2 separate regions of the Homo sapiens genome follow, and region 2 is linked to region 1. Evidence: fine-mapped expression QTL. Tissue or cell type: esophagus mucosa. Region 1 holds a variant in brackets; the other region holds the start of a gene. All regions are shown on one strand. Distances are from middle to middle.

Region 1 (8,002 bases):
CTGAATGTGCACAGACAGGAGGGGGTGGAAATAAGCAGGAGAGGAAATAGCTGTGCGGTCAGAGTGGCTGCACCTTAGGCTGTTTTAAAAAGCTTATTTACAATTGTATCTCCTCATTTTCTATGTACCATTATTCCCATTTTAGAGAGGAGGAAATTGACGCCCAGAGAACTGAAGCCATTTGCACATAGTGGCTGCTGGGACAAACCTGGCAGTTGACTCTGAGCCCCTTTATGATCCTGTTTGTCATCCCCTACCTGGGCCTGCAAGTTCTGCAGCCCTTCTGAGAGCTGAAGGCAAAACCCTTGCCCCGAGAGCCTTGTCTTCTTCTCGATGACCGTCCCTGTGCCCTCATTGTCCCCACTTGGAGACTTGGTCTCAATTCTCCCTATCACAGACCAAGAAGGAGACATGGCCAGAGATGCCTCCCCGATAGACAAGAATTGCCTGGAAACATTCATGCTACCACAGCCTGACCTTTGCATGAATCTCGGGAACAAAGACCCCTTGCACCCACCAGGGCAACCCTGCCAGGCGAGCCAACAGAGTGATGTGTGGAGCCACCCGGCGTGGCGATCTGCTCTCCAGGATGCTATTAAATCTGACCTGGCAATTATAACTTTGCAATAGGTGACGGCCTCATGACCACAGTACATCCCTGGGCTCCAGGCTCTGGGGTCTGTGGAGAATTCTAGAGCATCAAGGCCAGGTAAACAGCCCCTTCTTTGAAGAAAAGTAGAAGACATAACCTATCTGCAGATACAGCTGGCTTTGCTGAGCCATGTATTAGGTGGTGCAAAAGTAATTGCGGTTTTTGCCATTACTGTCAATGACAGAAACAGCGATTACTTTTTTTTTTGAGATGGAGTCTCACTCTTGTTGCCCAGGCTGGAGTGCAATGGCACGATCTTGGCTCACCAAAACCGCCTCCCGGGTTCAAGCGATTCGATTCTCCCGCCTCAGCCTCCCGAGTAGCTGGGATTACAGGCGTGCACCACCACACCCGGCTAATTTTGTATTTTTAGTAGAGACAGGGTTTCTCCATGTTGGTCAGGCTGGTCTCGAACTCCCGACCTCAGGTGATCTGCCCGCCTCGGCCTCCCAAAGTGCCGGGATTACAGACCTAAGCCACTGTGCCCAGCTGTGATTACTTTTGCACCAATCAAACCACAATACTTTTGCACCAATCTAATACTTATCTCCTCTCCCTGACAACTCGCTAAGGTGCATGTTATTCTCCCTGTTTTACAGATGAAGAGCCTGAGGCTCCATAGGTGGGCAGCATCGCTGAGCTTGCAAGAGCCACAGCTGGGCTCCGAACACAGGCTCATCAGGCCCCACAAACATGCCCCTTTCCTCCAGCCTGGACTAAACAGCTGAAACAAACACAACTCTCTTCCCTCACCCACCCCAGCCCAAAATTCTTTACATTTGAGCCATATGTTCAGGAGTTTCCTGAAGACACAAGCCTCCTATTCAGACATTCACTCAACAAACATTCATTGGGCATTGATTGTATGCTAGAATCTGCATGCAGAGGTAGGGAAGCTTTCACAAACCAAAAAGCCATGGCCCCTGCCTTCTTGGGGCTCAAGCTAAAGGGAGAGGCCACCTCCAACAAGCACATGAAGCTGTATAGTTGGAACAATGGGAAGGAAGGTTATGAGATGCCATTTGGACGTCAGGGTTCTGGAGGGCTTGCAGGCAGCAGAAACAGCACATGCAAAGGCCCTGTGGTGGGAACAAAATAGGCCAGTGTGGCAGGAGTATAGTGAATGTTGGGGATAAAATACATTTTTATTAACTCCTCATACCAGTGGTTCCAACATCGCCACATGGCCACTGCACACTGCCTCTGAGCCTCTTGTACATAACCTCTAAATCTTTACAGTGCTTTCATGGTGAGGATATTTGCCCCCACTTCCCATTTTACAGGTGAAAGAAAATGGAAACTCAGAGAGACATTGAAAGTTCCTGAACCCAGCAACTGACTCTCAGCCTGCACACCCAGCCTCCGTGGTGAGGGTTTACCATGTGCCCGGCTCTGTACGAAGCACTTACACATCTTATTGCAACGAGTCCTTTCAGCAACCTGTGATGTGGAGACTCTTGCACAGACAAGAAAAGTGAGGCTCAGAAGGAGATGCGACCCACAGAGCCCAGAAGCTGCGGGGCTGGAATCTAAACCCAGGTGGGTCTGACTCCAAGCAAGCCAGCGCTGTTTCCCCAGGACCACAGTTGCAGCAACTTTGAGGTGTCTCTCGGGGCCTCGGGCAGAAGCCAGCCCCACTCTGCACACAGACATGAGTGATGAATTCACCTGCGGTTCCTCGTCTGGCCACTGACCTGCCGCCTCGGCAGATCCCCAGGCTTAACAATCTCCAGCCACAGAACTAAGAACTCTCCCGGTGACTGGGAGCATCTTTCTGTGAGTCATCTGAGGGCCTGGCCCCCCTCTTCATCCTGTAGGTCCCCTTTATCATCAGCCAATCCTTTGACACCTGCCACTACCTTGGCTGGCGCCATCAGGTTGAACCCCACTTCACTACTGCCTCAGTCTGGGTTCCCCCAAAAGAAGACCCTCGGGCAAGGATCTCGGGGTGAGCCCCTTGTCTGCCAGGTAATTCCAGGAGTAGGGTCGGGAGTGGGGAAGTGAGAGAGGAGGAAACCAGCGAAGGATGCATTAGGGAGTGGCTGACCACTGTGGGAAGCGGGCGCAGTCCTGCTGGGGACCTCTGGGAAACTGTGCACACTATGCTGCAGCTGCCCCAACAGAGGGGCGAGGGAGCTGGGGTATTTACCCACCAGTGCCCATCCCTCTCTGGCTGAGGGCTGCTCCTGAGGTGGGGCTGGGGGTGTTAACTCTCCAGCCCTTCTAGCCAGCCTGTCCAGTCACCCGGCCAAGAGCACAGGGGCTATCTCTCCGCAGATGACCTGCAGGGAGCCGAGACATGTGAATGGGGCATTGATTAGGGGAAGTTCATCCGTCCTTCCAGTCTGCCAGGCAGCAAACATTTCTACAGCCTCCATCCTATGCCTGGCAGTGCTACCATCTGAAAAGAGGCAGCCTGGAAGGGCAGAACAATCAAACGCCTACTATGCGTGAGGCACCACACTGAATACTTAAATATGCAATCTTTTCAAACTACATGTACATGTATAAGCATCAACACCACCTCACGGGGCCATGTGTGGTGGCTCACGCCTGTAATATCAACACTTTGGAGGCTGAGGTGGGAGGATCACTTGAGCCCAGGAATTTGAGA[T/C]CAGCCTTGGCAACACAATGAGACTACAAACAATAAACAAAACTAGCCGAGCATGGTGGTACGTGCCTGTGGTCCCAGCTACTCGGGAGGCTGAGGTGGGAAAATCACTTGATCCCATGGGGTTGAGGCAACAGTGAGCTGTGATCACACCACTACACTCCAGCCTGGATGACAGAGGCAGACCCTGTCTCAAAAAGACAAAAACGAAAGCAAACGCTTCAGCATATTTTGCATTCCCTACATACTGATTGTGACCAGTATGAGCATGTGAATCCCCCTTGGAACCCTGGCTTTGCCATCCATAAAATGAAACCCTGTCTCCTAGGGTTGATGAGAGGGTTACATTGTAAAGTTCACAGACACAGTGCCTGACACAGAGTAAGCATTCTGTGCTTGGTAGCGATTGGTAGCTATTCTTCTATTTTTCTCTTCTTATCATCATAGTTCACCAAATCTAAGACACTGCCAGTTGTAAACCACATCACAATTTTAGAGATGTTAAAATGAGGGAAGAAAAGCACTTCTTAGAATTGATGGGATATGGTCTTGTTCCCATTTTCCAGATTAAGGCGTTATTGAGGCTTGGGGCAGGAATAGCACTGGCCTGTTTTCCCCCTTTGATCCCTGCTTCCCGCCCCCGGGACAGGACCCTCACTAGGTCACCCTGGTGTCAGGTTCAGGCAGACTTTGCTGTTCATGCTAAGTTACAGGAGGAGAATCAACACTTTTCAAGCGGTGGATTAACTTATTTCAGTGCTGTGCCAAAGAGAACCAGAAGTCTGGAGCAATTATGCTGATGGGGCCCACACCCACCCAACACCCTCGTCCCGGCCTCCACCAAGATGACTCAGCCCAAATTATCCCCCTAATTGTCTCAACCCGTGTGGACTCCAGCTGGGGCCCTCCTTCCCCCAAACCCGCATGACTGGATCCTTGAGGGCTGCAGACAGGCAGAGCGCTCCCCTCTCTCTGAAACGGAATGTTGCTTTCCAGGCCCTTCCACCATTGCTCATCAACTCAGTTTCCACTTCCCTCCCGCTTCGGCCCACCCTCCTCTGCGCACAGGCCTGGTTGTTGATGGTCTTTATGAAAGCTCCTGGGCCAGGCATGCACTTTGGGAGGCCAAGGCGAGAGATTGCTTGAATCTGGGAGTTTGAGACCAGCCTGGGCAACATAGTGAGGCCCTGTGTCTTTAAAAAAATAATAATACATTATTTATTATTATATATATATATATTTTTTGAGACGGAGTCTCGCTCTGTCGCCAGGCTGGAATGCTGTGGTGCGATCTTGGCTCACTGCAACTTCTGACTCCCTGGTTTGAGCAATTCTCCTGCCTCAGCCTCCTGAGTAGCTGGGATTACAGGCACGCGCCACCACGCCCGGCTAATTTTTATATTTTTAGTAAAAACGGAGTTTCACCATGTTGGTCAGGATGGTCTCTATCTCCTGACCTCGTGATCCACACGCCTCGGCCTCCCAAAGTGCTGGGATTATAGGCGTGAGCCACTGCGCCCGGCCAATAAATTAATTTTAAATTTTAAATTAATTTTTAAAAAATTTAAAAAGTAGCCGGCATGGTTGCATATGCCTGTGGTCCCAGGCACTTGGGAGGCTGAAGTGGGAGGATTGCTTGAGCCCATGAGGTTGAGGCCGCAGTGAGCCGTGACTGCACTGCTGCACTCATCCTGCGTGACAGAGTGAGACCCTGTCTCAAAAAAAAAAGAAAGAAGGAGAGAGAGAAAGAGACAGAAGAAAGAAGGAAAGAAAGAAAGAAAAAGAGAGAAAGAAGAAAGAAGGAATGAAAGAAAAAAGAGAGAAAGAAAGAGAAAGAAAGAAAGAAAGAAAGAAAGAAAGAAAGAAAGAAAGAAAGAAAGAGAAAGAAAGGAAGGAAGGATGGAGGGAAGGAAAGAGAAAGAGAGGAAGGAAGGAAGGAAGGAAGGAAGGAAGGAAGGAAGGAAAAGAAAGAGAGAAAGAGAAGAAAGAGAAGACAGAAAGAAAGTTACTTCTCTGAATAGACCTCCCTTTGGAGATCCCTGTTTCTTCACGCTGACCCTGCCTTACCCTGTTGCTAGGCCTGGGGGAGGGGAGTACTGAATTTTAAGTCCCTTGAGGGGAAGAACTATCTTGCACTGCCATCTGGATCCCACCCAGCAGAGGTCATGGCACAGAGATGATGTTCAAGTTAAGTGGGATTGGATGGAGAGAAGGAAATAAAAAAAAACCAAAGAAGTTTGATCATGGAAGAACAAAGGGGGCCTCTTAAGAAGGAGGGGATGTGCTAAGGCTGAATCAGCCTCCCTTAGCAAGAACAAGAAGACATAACAGCAAAAACAAGCAGACACAGTGATGTTTCACATAAACCAAAGAACACACAGGATCTCCAGGCAGATGGGAGAATGCACTCAGGGGTAGACTTTTGTATTCAGGATTCAAAAGAGAATTTTTTGTTGGCTAAGAAAGCTTTCCTAGTATGTTGATTTTATGAATGCAGAAGTCTCATGAATTGGACAGGTGTTTTTTGAAGACCCATTGGGGAGGCAGATTGGGAGTCATGGGCCCCTGGCTCAGGCTGTGTTCATTGCAGACTGGGAGACACTGGGAAACTTACTCACTTATTTTAATTGGCAGGGACACAGGAATGAATTGATTCCCTCAAGGACACTTGTTTGTGAGAGGCTCAATATCATCATTGGTCTAGACAGCCCCTCAAACCCAGTCAACTCCCCTCCCCATAGCCACAGACATGGGCCATCCTGTATTCAACATAGTTTTGTTCTTCCAGGCTATCTGCCACCCTTTTATATACACACATGTATATATCCAAGAACTGCCGTGGGTAAATGGTTTTTAAAATGAACATATATGATATTACCAACTGTGGCTCCTTTGCAACTTTCTTTTCTTGGTCAATATTAATTTTTAAGATTCATCCTTGCTGGTAAGTGTGGTGATAACTCACTCCTTTTCATTGCTGTATAATAATCCATTTTACAAATATCCCTTTAAAAAAAAAAAAGTTTAAGAGACAGGTTCTTGCTTTGCTGCCCAGGCTGGAGTATAGTGGCATGATCATAGCTCACTATAACCTCGAACTCCTGGGCTCAAGTGATCCTCCCACTTCAGCCTCCCAAGTAGGGGGGACTACAGATGCACTACCACACCTGGAGAATCTTGTTTTTTAGTTTTTATAAAGACGGGGGTCTCACTCTGTTGCCGAGGCTGGTCTCAAACTCCTGGCCTCAAGCGATCCTCCTGCCTTCGCCTCCCAAAGTGCTGGGATTACAGACGTGAGCCCCTGTGCCCACCCAGTATCCGTTATTATATCTATCCATTTCCCCACAGATGAACATCTAAGTTGTTTCCAAACCTGACCCACTAGACGCTTCACTTCCTCCTTTCATGGTCTCATCTATAAAAATGAGATGCCACAGATGACTTCCAAGTTGCCACAGGCTGGCTGCTTCAAATGCAGACTTCACCCCCAGGAAGCTCACAGTTCAGCCAGGGAGCCATGATTTGTACATAAGTGAAAGAAATCTCACTCCATGACTGAATTGGGTGATAACTGGCATCTTAATCCTCATCTCTGTTATTGGCCTTTAAACCCTTGCCACCCAGAGAATGCTTTGCACAGTGTCTGGCACTCCTGGAAGAGTGAGTGAGGCCAGTGGGTGGTATGGCATGGGTGAGACAGGGAGGAGTGGGGTGCAGCTCTGCCAGTTGCATCAGTTGCATCGGGGGCCCCTGCCTGGTGCATCCATAGCAGCCCAGCCTGGGCAGCTTCCTGTCCCAGCCCGGCAGGATGCACCTCACGTCACACAGCGGGAATCCTCTTGCTGTTATTTACATTGCTTGCAAAATCCAAGAAATCATCCCTGAATATGTGGCCCAATGTCTTGAGATTAAATCCTTTTAGCAGGATTCTCTTTCCCCAGTATTCTCCTGTGATCCAGACCACAGAGCCCGCCTGACGGTGGATCCGGATTTGATGTTACTGGGAACAAGAAAGAAACCGTGTTGCGAAAGCTCGGAATCAGATCTCCGGCCCAGTGGAAACACTGCCATATGCTTAATTGTGCTCCAATTACACAGAATGCTCCAGAATCGCTGCTCTGAGGTGGAGAGACGCTAATGGCCATCATTACATTTGGACAGCCCTGTTCAGCTTTATGTGATCTTTGCAACTACTGTGTGGTTCACTGAGAGTTGCTGGCCTATTTTAACACAAGAGAGACGGTGGAGTTTCTCATTTGCAAAAGCTGACTGAGCACCTAGGATGGACCAAGCCTGGTTCCAGCCACTGAGGACAGTGCAAACCAGGCTCTCATGGAACTTCTAGTCCAGTGGGGAGACAAGCAACACACACACGCACGCGCGCACACACACACACACTGCCCGTAGAGATAAGTGCCGTGAAGAATTAAGAGCTATGAGAAATGGGAACAGGGCCTAAACAGTGGTCCAGGGAGGCCCCCTGCAGAGGAGCATTTGGGTACCTATGTGAGGTAAGGGAGGGAGCTGCGAGGAGGAGATCTGGTGGAAGAGTGTTAGCAGCGGGAACAGCCAGTGCAAAGGCTAAGGGGACCTGCTTGGTGTGTTGGACAGCCGGTGTGGCTGGAGTGGGGAGAAGGACTGGAAGATGGGGAAAGGATGACACTTGTAAGGGCCACAGGAAGGAATCTGCACTTCACTATGAGTTGCATGGGACAGCTCTGAGCAGAGGAGGGATGTGA
Region 2 (8,000 bases), 35 kb before region 1:
CTTTGCTGTTGGGGTTCTGGGGTTTGGCCTTCTCCCAGGGCGCCAACGTCTTGTCGTCGTCCGCGCTGTCCACCAGGGCCTTGTCAGCGGGCATGTACCAGGCAGCGCTGTGCTCTGCCATCAGCGAGTCCAGGTCAATGGTGCTCATGGCGCTCTTGACCGCCTCGGAGCAGCAGCTGCCCAGCTCGCTGTCGCCATTCTGCGCCCCTGAGGCCCCGACGGCGCACTCACCCTTCTTGCCACCCTTCAGCCCCAGAGGCTGGTCCTCGGAGATGCTGAACTGCTGCCTCTGTAGCTGGATCTGCGCCTGAAGGATCTCCAGGGGGTGGATCTCGTCGGGTGGCGGGGCGCCGCTGCTGCTCGTCGGGGTGCGGACCTGCTCCAGGCCCGGAGTGCCCGGATGGCCCGGGCCCCCACCGCCGCCGTAGCTGTCAGGGGTCGAGGTAGAGTTAGACATGATGCCCAGGCCGAGGGCGGGCGGGGGCGCCTTCGGTCCGTGTTCCCCGGCGCCTACCCCACGGGGAGGGAGTTTGGGCGAGCCGGTCACCAGGGGACTCCTGCTCGCTTTAACTAGTGCCTGGGGGTTGTCAGAGCTGGACGACACCTCGTCCTCATTGGCGTAGCTCGTGCTCACCTCGTCCGAGGCGAACTCACCCACGTTTGGCGAACTACTGTCCGACTTGGCCCCGCCGTCCAGGGACCCAATGAGGTCCGGCTGATCCCCCAGGAGCAACTCAGCCCCCTTCCCCCAGGATGGCGACGTGAGCGCCTTTTCGTGGGGCGTCGGTGCCCCGCGCGTCTCGCCTGCGGAGCTTCCCCCGACGGCTGCGCCTGACGCTTGCTGCTGCCCTGGGCTCACCCCAGGTGCGCCCCCGCTGTCCGGAGCCGCCGAGTACTTGTCAAAGAAGGTGCCAGGGCTCACGTGACCACTGTCCCTTTTTCTGCGACCCCGTCCCCGGCCGCCGCCCCCGGAGACCGGCTTGCCGTCATTCCCCGACGTGGATTCCAGGGTGTAGTTGGGGGAGAGGCTGGTGCCGTCCCCCTGGGCTGGAGGGTTGGGCGGCCCCGAGGCTTTGGAGCCGCTGCTACTGGTCCCGGACGGGCCTCCGGGTCCTGGGGCCCCAGGAGCAGTCCCTCCTGGGAAGTAATCCGAGCCCGGGTTGCCGGCCACTGCCGCGCCGTCGGTCTCGTTCTGGCTCAGTTTCCTCTTGCCCTCTGGCGGGTTCTTCTTGTTGAAGGTCACGTTGAGGTTGGGGGCCCCGAGGCTGGCGATCATGTTCTGGCAAGCGGTGGAGAGCGCAGCCAGGCAGCTCTGGCCGAACAGGTTGTCCTTGGAGCTGGGCTTGTTGAAGGAGCCCAGCGAGAGCGCGCCCAATTTACTGGCCGAGGTGCGCTGGCTGGGCTGGAAATCAGGCTGCGGCGGGTAGGCACCCCCGCCACCGCCGCCACCAGAGCTGCCACCGCCCCCTCCCGCGCTGGGGGGCGAGTTCACGCCTGGACCGCTGTGCGGCGTGGACTGCCGGCCGGCTGCACCAAACGGAAAGCCCGGCTGGCCCCCGAGCGCAGACGTAGCAAAGTCCGGCGGCGGGGGCCGGCGCTCCGAAGCAGCGCTGGGGAGCCCCACGCCCGCCCCGGGCGACTGCAGCTGACCCAGGCCTCCCAGACTGCCCCCGAACTGCAGGCCCGGTGAAGGCAGCGCGGGCACGTGGCCCTCTCCGGGCATCCTCATCGGCTCCTGCAGAGGGCCCCGGAACAGCACCCCCGAGCCACCAGGCGGAGGAGGGGGCGCCAGGCTGGGGTCGTGCGGGCCACAGTCAGCGGGCAGACCCGAGCCGCCCATCCTACGGGGCAGCAGGTCTCCGGGCGGCGGATGCGGACCTGAGAACCACGCGCTCTCTTGCGCCAAGTGCGGCGCCTGCTGCTCGAAGGTGCCCAGACGCCCGGCGCCCGTGCTGCCGCCTTCGCGCTCAAAGTTCGGCTGGGCCAAGCCGCCCACCGGGCCGCCATGCACCAGGCCGCCCTGGCCCACGTCCCCGGGGTGGCCTAGCTGAGCCAGGTTGGGCTGGCGCAGCCGCTGCTGCTGATTCCGCGACGCCATCTGCTTAATCATGAGGGCCGCGTTTTGGCGCTGCTGCTGCTGCTGCTGTTGCTGTTGCTGTTGCTGCTGCTGCTGCTGCTGTTGCTGCTGCTGCTGCTGCTGCTGCTGCTGTTGCAGGGACTGGTGGTCCGGGGCCGGATGCTGCAGGGGCGGCCCCGAAGGGAAGCTGTCGGGCACAGGCGGTGTGAACTCGCCGGGTAGGCCTGGGTAGGCGGAAGGGGAGAGGTGATTATCCAGAGCGCCGTTGTGCATGCTGCCGTTCCACGAAGCGCAGCGGTCCACTCCCGCGCTGCCCGGAAAGTCGAAGCGCGGCCTCTTGGCCACGTTCATGTAGGGGGGCGCGTCGAAATGCTGCAGCCGCTGGTTGGGCGCCTGCTGCGGAGGAGGATGCTGCATGCTGAAAACAGGCTCGGAATAAGGGTGCATGCTCCGGTTCTCCAGCCGGTGGATGGGATACTCGAATTGCGCGTGCTGGCTGGGCAGCATGGGGCCTCCGTCCTGCAGGCCGCCGCTGGGCGTGCCCGCCTCGCCCTGCTGGGGCCGAGGGAGCGCAGGCGGGCACGAATTTTGTCGGACTAGAAGCCCGGGTGGCGGCGGCGGCTGCTGCTGTGGCGGCTGCTGCGGGGGCTGCTGCTGAGGGGGTGGCGGGGCCTGCTGGGGAGGCTGCATTAACGGGTGCCTGGAGCCCACTGAGGGCTCCAGACCCACAGGCATCTTTCTGGCCCCACTGAACCTCTCAAAGAACACACCATGCTGCTGCTGCTGCTGCTGGGGCTGCTGCTGCTGCTGGGGCTGCTGCTGCGGTGGCTGGGCGTGCATTTTGGACAAGCCCACCATGCCCGCAGCTCTGGGCATGGCCGAGGCGCCCGGGAAAGCGCCCCCAGGAACCTGGCGACCCGCTGCATAATGAGGCAGCTGCCCTTCGGAGTCAGAGGGCGAAAACATGTCAAAATGTCCCGAGGGCGCCTCGCCCGGGTAATTGTATTCCAGCGAGTCGACGGCTCCTTGGTTCGTCACCCTCCGTGGCTCCAGACTGTGGGAATCGGAGCCGCTGGAGGACGGCAGGCCGTGGAAGGAGGCGGCTCGGTTAGGGCTCTGGTCCAGCGGCAGGCATGGGGCCGGCACGGCGTGGCTGGAGGCACCTGAACTGTGGAAGTCCGGGAGGTTCCCCGGTCGCTGCGGGCCGAAGCTCTCAGGCCCCTGGCTCTCCGCCATGTGCTCATAGCCCTCGGCGAAGGGCGGCTGGCTGCCCAGGCCTCCGGCTGCGCCGCCGTAGCCGAGCAGGCGACCCCCGTGCAGGCACGAGGCCCCGGGGTCCGGGCCACCGAAGTTGCCCCCAAAGTGGGGGTGATGCTGGTGGGGATGATGACTTCCCGGGTGGCCGTGGTGAGGCTGCTGGCCGCCAAAGAAGCCGTGCACAGGCTGCGCTTGCAGCCCCCCTGCGTGCAACTCCGAGTGGCCGCGCGCGTGGAAGCCGTAGGGCTCCATGTTCATGCCCAAGATCGGGGGTTCGCCCAGCGCGCTCATAGCAGGATCCACAGGGCCAGGGGGCCCCCCAGTGTGGAAAGCCGGGGCCTTAAAGTGGGTGTTCATGCTCAGTCCGGTCTCGTTAAAGTTCCTCTCGCCCTGGCCAGCGTTCCTGCTGTTGACCTGGGGCTCGAATTGGTCCAGCCCAAACATACTTGGCGGGGGGCAGAGGGGGATCAATAGGGCATGACAGCCGGCTCTCCGCGGCGCGCCTCCGGCCAGCTACTCGTTCCAGCCCAGGATTGGGCGCTCCGGGACGCTCAGCACCGCGGGGGCTCAGCGCGCACCTCCACCCCGCCTGATGTGAGGGACGGGGGGCGGGGTATTAGCTCCTCTCCTGAAGCTCCGATTCTGCCCGGGGAGGGCCTCTCACATCTTGCGAGGCCGCGGGGCCTCTAGGAGCCGTGTTGGGGGGCCCATGCCCCGGGCGGTTGTCACAGCCGCGGGTGGGTCTGCGGGGAGGGGACGAAGCCGCGGATGAACGGAGACAAAAAGTTAAGTGGGGGGAATGGGGAGGGAAGGGGGTTGGGAGAGCAGAGCGATCACCTTCTCAAGTCCGATTGGGTCTGCTGGGGAGCCCTCAGGACGCCGCCCGCAGCCTCCCGGAGTCCGTGGCAGAGCTGCTAAGGGCAGGGGAGGGAGACCCTTCAAAGCCGCGGCTGGCGCCGGGCACCGACAGAGCGGTCCCTCCCCCCGCCCCCCGGAGTCCCCGCGCCCCGCAGCCCGAGCCTCCACCGAGCACGATCCGCTCGCACAATCCCCGTAGGCTCCGGGCGAGCGGCTGCTGCTTCTTCAGCGGGTCGGAGGACTGGAGGCTCCGCTCGGCATCGCCGGTGCCGGCCCCCGAGCCGAGGACGCAGAGGGGCTGCGAGGCGGCAGGCGCCGGGGGCTGGAGCCGAGGGTCGGGGAAAGGCGCGGCTCCTCTGCTCGGCAGCGGGTGCGCTGCGTTCGGCGCGCAGCTTCGCGGCCACGTCCGCCGCCTGCCGCTTCTGTTCTCCGCCGTTGGGTGTCTGAGTTCGCCGGAGTCTCCGCGCACCGTTGCAGGCGCGGGAGGGCAGCGAGACGAGGGGTTGGGTCGCTCCAAGGCTCCGGTTCCCTGCCTCCGCGCTGAGGTGCTTCGCGAGTCCCTCTCGGACCTGAGGGAGGGGGGCGTACGCGGGTCGGGGGGCCACGCCGGGCGAGCAGGCTAAGGCGTTCCCGCTGCGCTCTCAGAGCCCGGAATGGGGGGAGGGGGGCGCGGGGGCAGCTCTGGGGGGTCTGCGCACCCCTCTCCCGACTAGCGGGGGGGCTCTGCGTGGGGCGTTCCGAGGGTCTCGGCTCCCCTCTCTGTGTCTGCCTCTCGCCCAGCGCCGGGAGAAGCAGCAACAAGTTTTGCATTTCAGCAATCAATTTCAGCCATTACATTTGCACCAATCAGCGCCGCCCAAGTTCCGGGCTCGGGGCGGGGCTCGCTCTTAAGGTGGTCCGGGGTCCTGGCTGCCGAAGCCCCCGCCACGAACCCGCACTACCCCAGCTCTGGGGTCCCCTGCGCCCGCCTCTCCTCGGGGTCCGGCGTCAGTGCGCTGGGGGCGCGCCCCGGCCTCCGGGCGCATCGAGCTGGAGAGGGTGCAGGCGGAGGAGAATGGCGGGAGCTTGGCTTTGTTCACCCCCTTCCCATTCACACTGTTCCCAACTCCCCACCCCCAACTGGAGCGAGACCCACCGGGTGGGCAGGGGGCGGGGAGGTGGGCGGTGAGCGGTACGGGGCGCTCAGACAATGAGGTCGCCAGGCAAAGACCCTAGACTCGCCACGGAAAGTCGCTAAGTGTCTACTGCACTTCGGCTCCGGGGTGAACACTCCGTTCTCCGCTAGCGGCGCCCAAGTTAGCCGGCCCTGGGATTTTCTTGGAGGGTAAAGCAGACGGGGAACCTCGAAGTTAGGGTTCTCCTCGAGAGACCTGGGCGCTTGCTCACTCCTCCGTCACTAGGGCGTTCACAATTGTTCCCCTTCCCCACTGCCTGGGGTTCCCGGTTCTCACCGGCCGGCGTGGGCTCCAAGGAGTCACAGTCACTCAGCCACTTTATGGGGGAGCACATCGGTTGAGCCCAGTAACCGGAGCGACTTGCGAGGCGGCTGGGAACCCCGAGAAGACACGCACGAAGAGGGCGCACCCGCCGGGCCGCACACCTTGCCCTGGGCCACCCGGTCCAAGACCCAGACCCTCTGCGGGTGCGAAGTTGGCCTCCTTAAGAGATCAATTAAACTGAAGAGGCCGAGGAATGGAATTGGGCTGTGATACTAAAATCAATAGGAGTAATTTAATATCTGCCCTGCTCTTTATGAAATATTTATCCCAATAATCTTAGTTAAAATGTTTAGATCGTCCTGATCCCCACAGAGGCTGAAATCTATCTTGCAATTAGAAGTTGGAAGTTAGAGGTGATGGAGGATAGAGGTGTTTATTCTGTGCGCCTGTGTGCGTGTGCTCGCGCCTGCGTGCGTGTGTTTGTGCATGCGTGTGTGTGTGTGTGTGTGTTCCTCCCTAAAGTGTGTGTAGGGAAGGAGGGGGGAGAAGGCCTTTAATTTTCCTTGCCATAAAATAGCACGAGGCGATTTTGCTAGCAGATTCGCATTCTTAGGAGAAGGGCGAAAAAAGAACTTTCTTTGAAGTGCCCCTGATATCGCTATTAAATCTAAATAAAATTAAGCGTGGTGTATGAAAATGCCTTTCCCCCCCCACAAAAGAAAGTGTTTATCGCCCGAGTCTGTCTAGCGTTTGCTAAATTACGCATGAAATCTGAAATGAAATAAACGTTATAATAAAACCAACCCCTGAGCCCTTTTTATTTAAAAACCTTAGATTAAGCACTCCACCGTCGCGGGCAGGAGTTAAAAAGTTACCATGTCGTACGCGCAGATTCATTGCTCCCCTGAGTTGCGGCTAGGAAGGCAGTGCTAAGTATGCCAGAACCGACATGCCGGGGGTGGGGGGAAATGGGCTCAACTTTGGGGTAGCGGCAGAATTCCTAAGAAATTGCCCCCCGCCCAAAAAAAATTTTAATTAAAAATAAACAAACAAGAAAAAACAACAACTTTAAAACTCAGCCAGAGCAAGCTCAGATCCAAGACCTTTCCCGGGGCCTTCCTGTTGTGGAAGTTTACAGACATATATATTTTTTCTTTTTTGAAATTAAAAATGAAAATTACCCCCATCAAAAATGGGGTCCATAAATAAGCATAGGGAATAAGTATTTGTACAGGGCGGTGGAGTTTTTAAAGGATTTTTCTGCAGGATCAGGTTGTTGGTCTGTGATTAAATATTGATTTTGTGTAATTAGTTTTCATGTGAACTATCCTCTTGCTGATAGCTTAGAGGTTTCAGAACTAGAAAAGAAATGGAATTGGACATGGAAATTATTACTTAGCAAAGTGACAGGGAAGTGAGAGCCAGAGAAAAGACTGAGGCTTTGCTGATTTAGGCACAAAGAAATAAAGGCTTGGGTAGGCCCTCCAGTGACACCCCCCCCCCGCCCGCCCCGGGGCCTAGGACCCTGGGGCTCTGGGGCTCCCGAGACAGAGCAGGGGGGATCTTGAACCTCCTGGACAAAAAGCGGGAGGCAATAGGAAAACCTGGTTGTGAGGAAGAGGCCCCCACATGGGCAAAGGCCTGGGCATAGTCCAAGATACTGGGTCACACACTCAGTCTGCTCTCGACTATGGGTGTCTCCTGAGGCACCTATGAGCCGCCTGTGTTTCTGTGTCTGGAGGAAATAGGGAAAAGTGGGGACCTGTCTGGAGCCTGGGGGTGGGCCAGGAGAGTGGGAAGAATGGCTCACAGGCCTGTCGTCTGGGGAGACCCGGATGGGGGCGTCTGCAGAGCTGAGGCATGACTTCACACAGGGCTGGGTGGGGGTCTCCAGCACACCTGGGCAGGTTTCCTGTGGAATAATTCCGTGTGCTCCAGGGAGGGGGGGTGTGGGAGTATTTTTCTGGGGCTGTTTCCAAGAGTTAGCTCCACAAGGTGTGTGAGTGGCTGAAAGAAGGGAGTGTTTGGACCTGGTGAAGTTTCTGTTCAGGATGTGTGTCTCGGTCACCTTTCTTTAACACTGCAAATGTTGTGCGGGTGTGTGGCACACGTCTGCATTTTGTGCCTTTGCTTGTATGCGGGTGGCGGGGCATCTGCGTGTGTTTCTGTCCATGCCTGCGTCGGCGTTCGTGCATGGATCTTTGGGGGTCTTGGTGCATGTTCTCTGTCTGTCCCCCAACCCCGCATTTCTGTGTGTGTGAGCCACTGCGTTTGTACCTGTGTGTGTGCAGCTGCCTCACCCCTTGCATGCCTGTATCTCTGCTCCAGTGTATCTGTTTTTTCTGCGAGTGTGAGGGCGTGTGCCTCAC

The links. PIP is the estimated chance that this variant, and not a neighbour inherited with it, causes the effect.
Region 2: MN1 starts here. The variant in region 1 is fine-mapped to the expression of MN1 in esophagus mucosa (GTEx, PIP 0.97).

The regions. Positions count from the first base shown.
Region 1 is chr22:27,832,249-27,840,250 of GRCh38, forward strand. No RefSeq gene overlaps it. Among named protein-coding and RNA genes, the nearest start is that of MN1, 34 kb to the left of the region's middle. The variant T/C (reference allele first, on the strand shown) is at 3,267.
Region 2 is chr22:27,796,766-27,804,765 of GRCh38, forward strand. MN1 (MN1 proto-oncogene, transcriptional regulator) reads right to left here and starts at 4,991. Exons shown (of 2, transcript NM_002430.3): 1 at 1-4,991. The coding sequence starts at 3,778. RefSeq lists enhancers at 1,965-2,511, 2,512-3,057, 7,400-7,964, 7,965-8,000.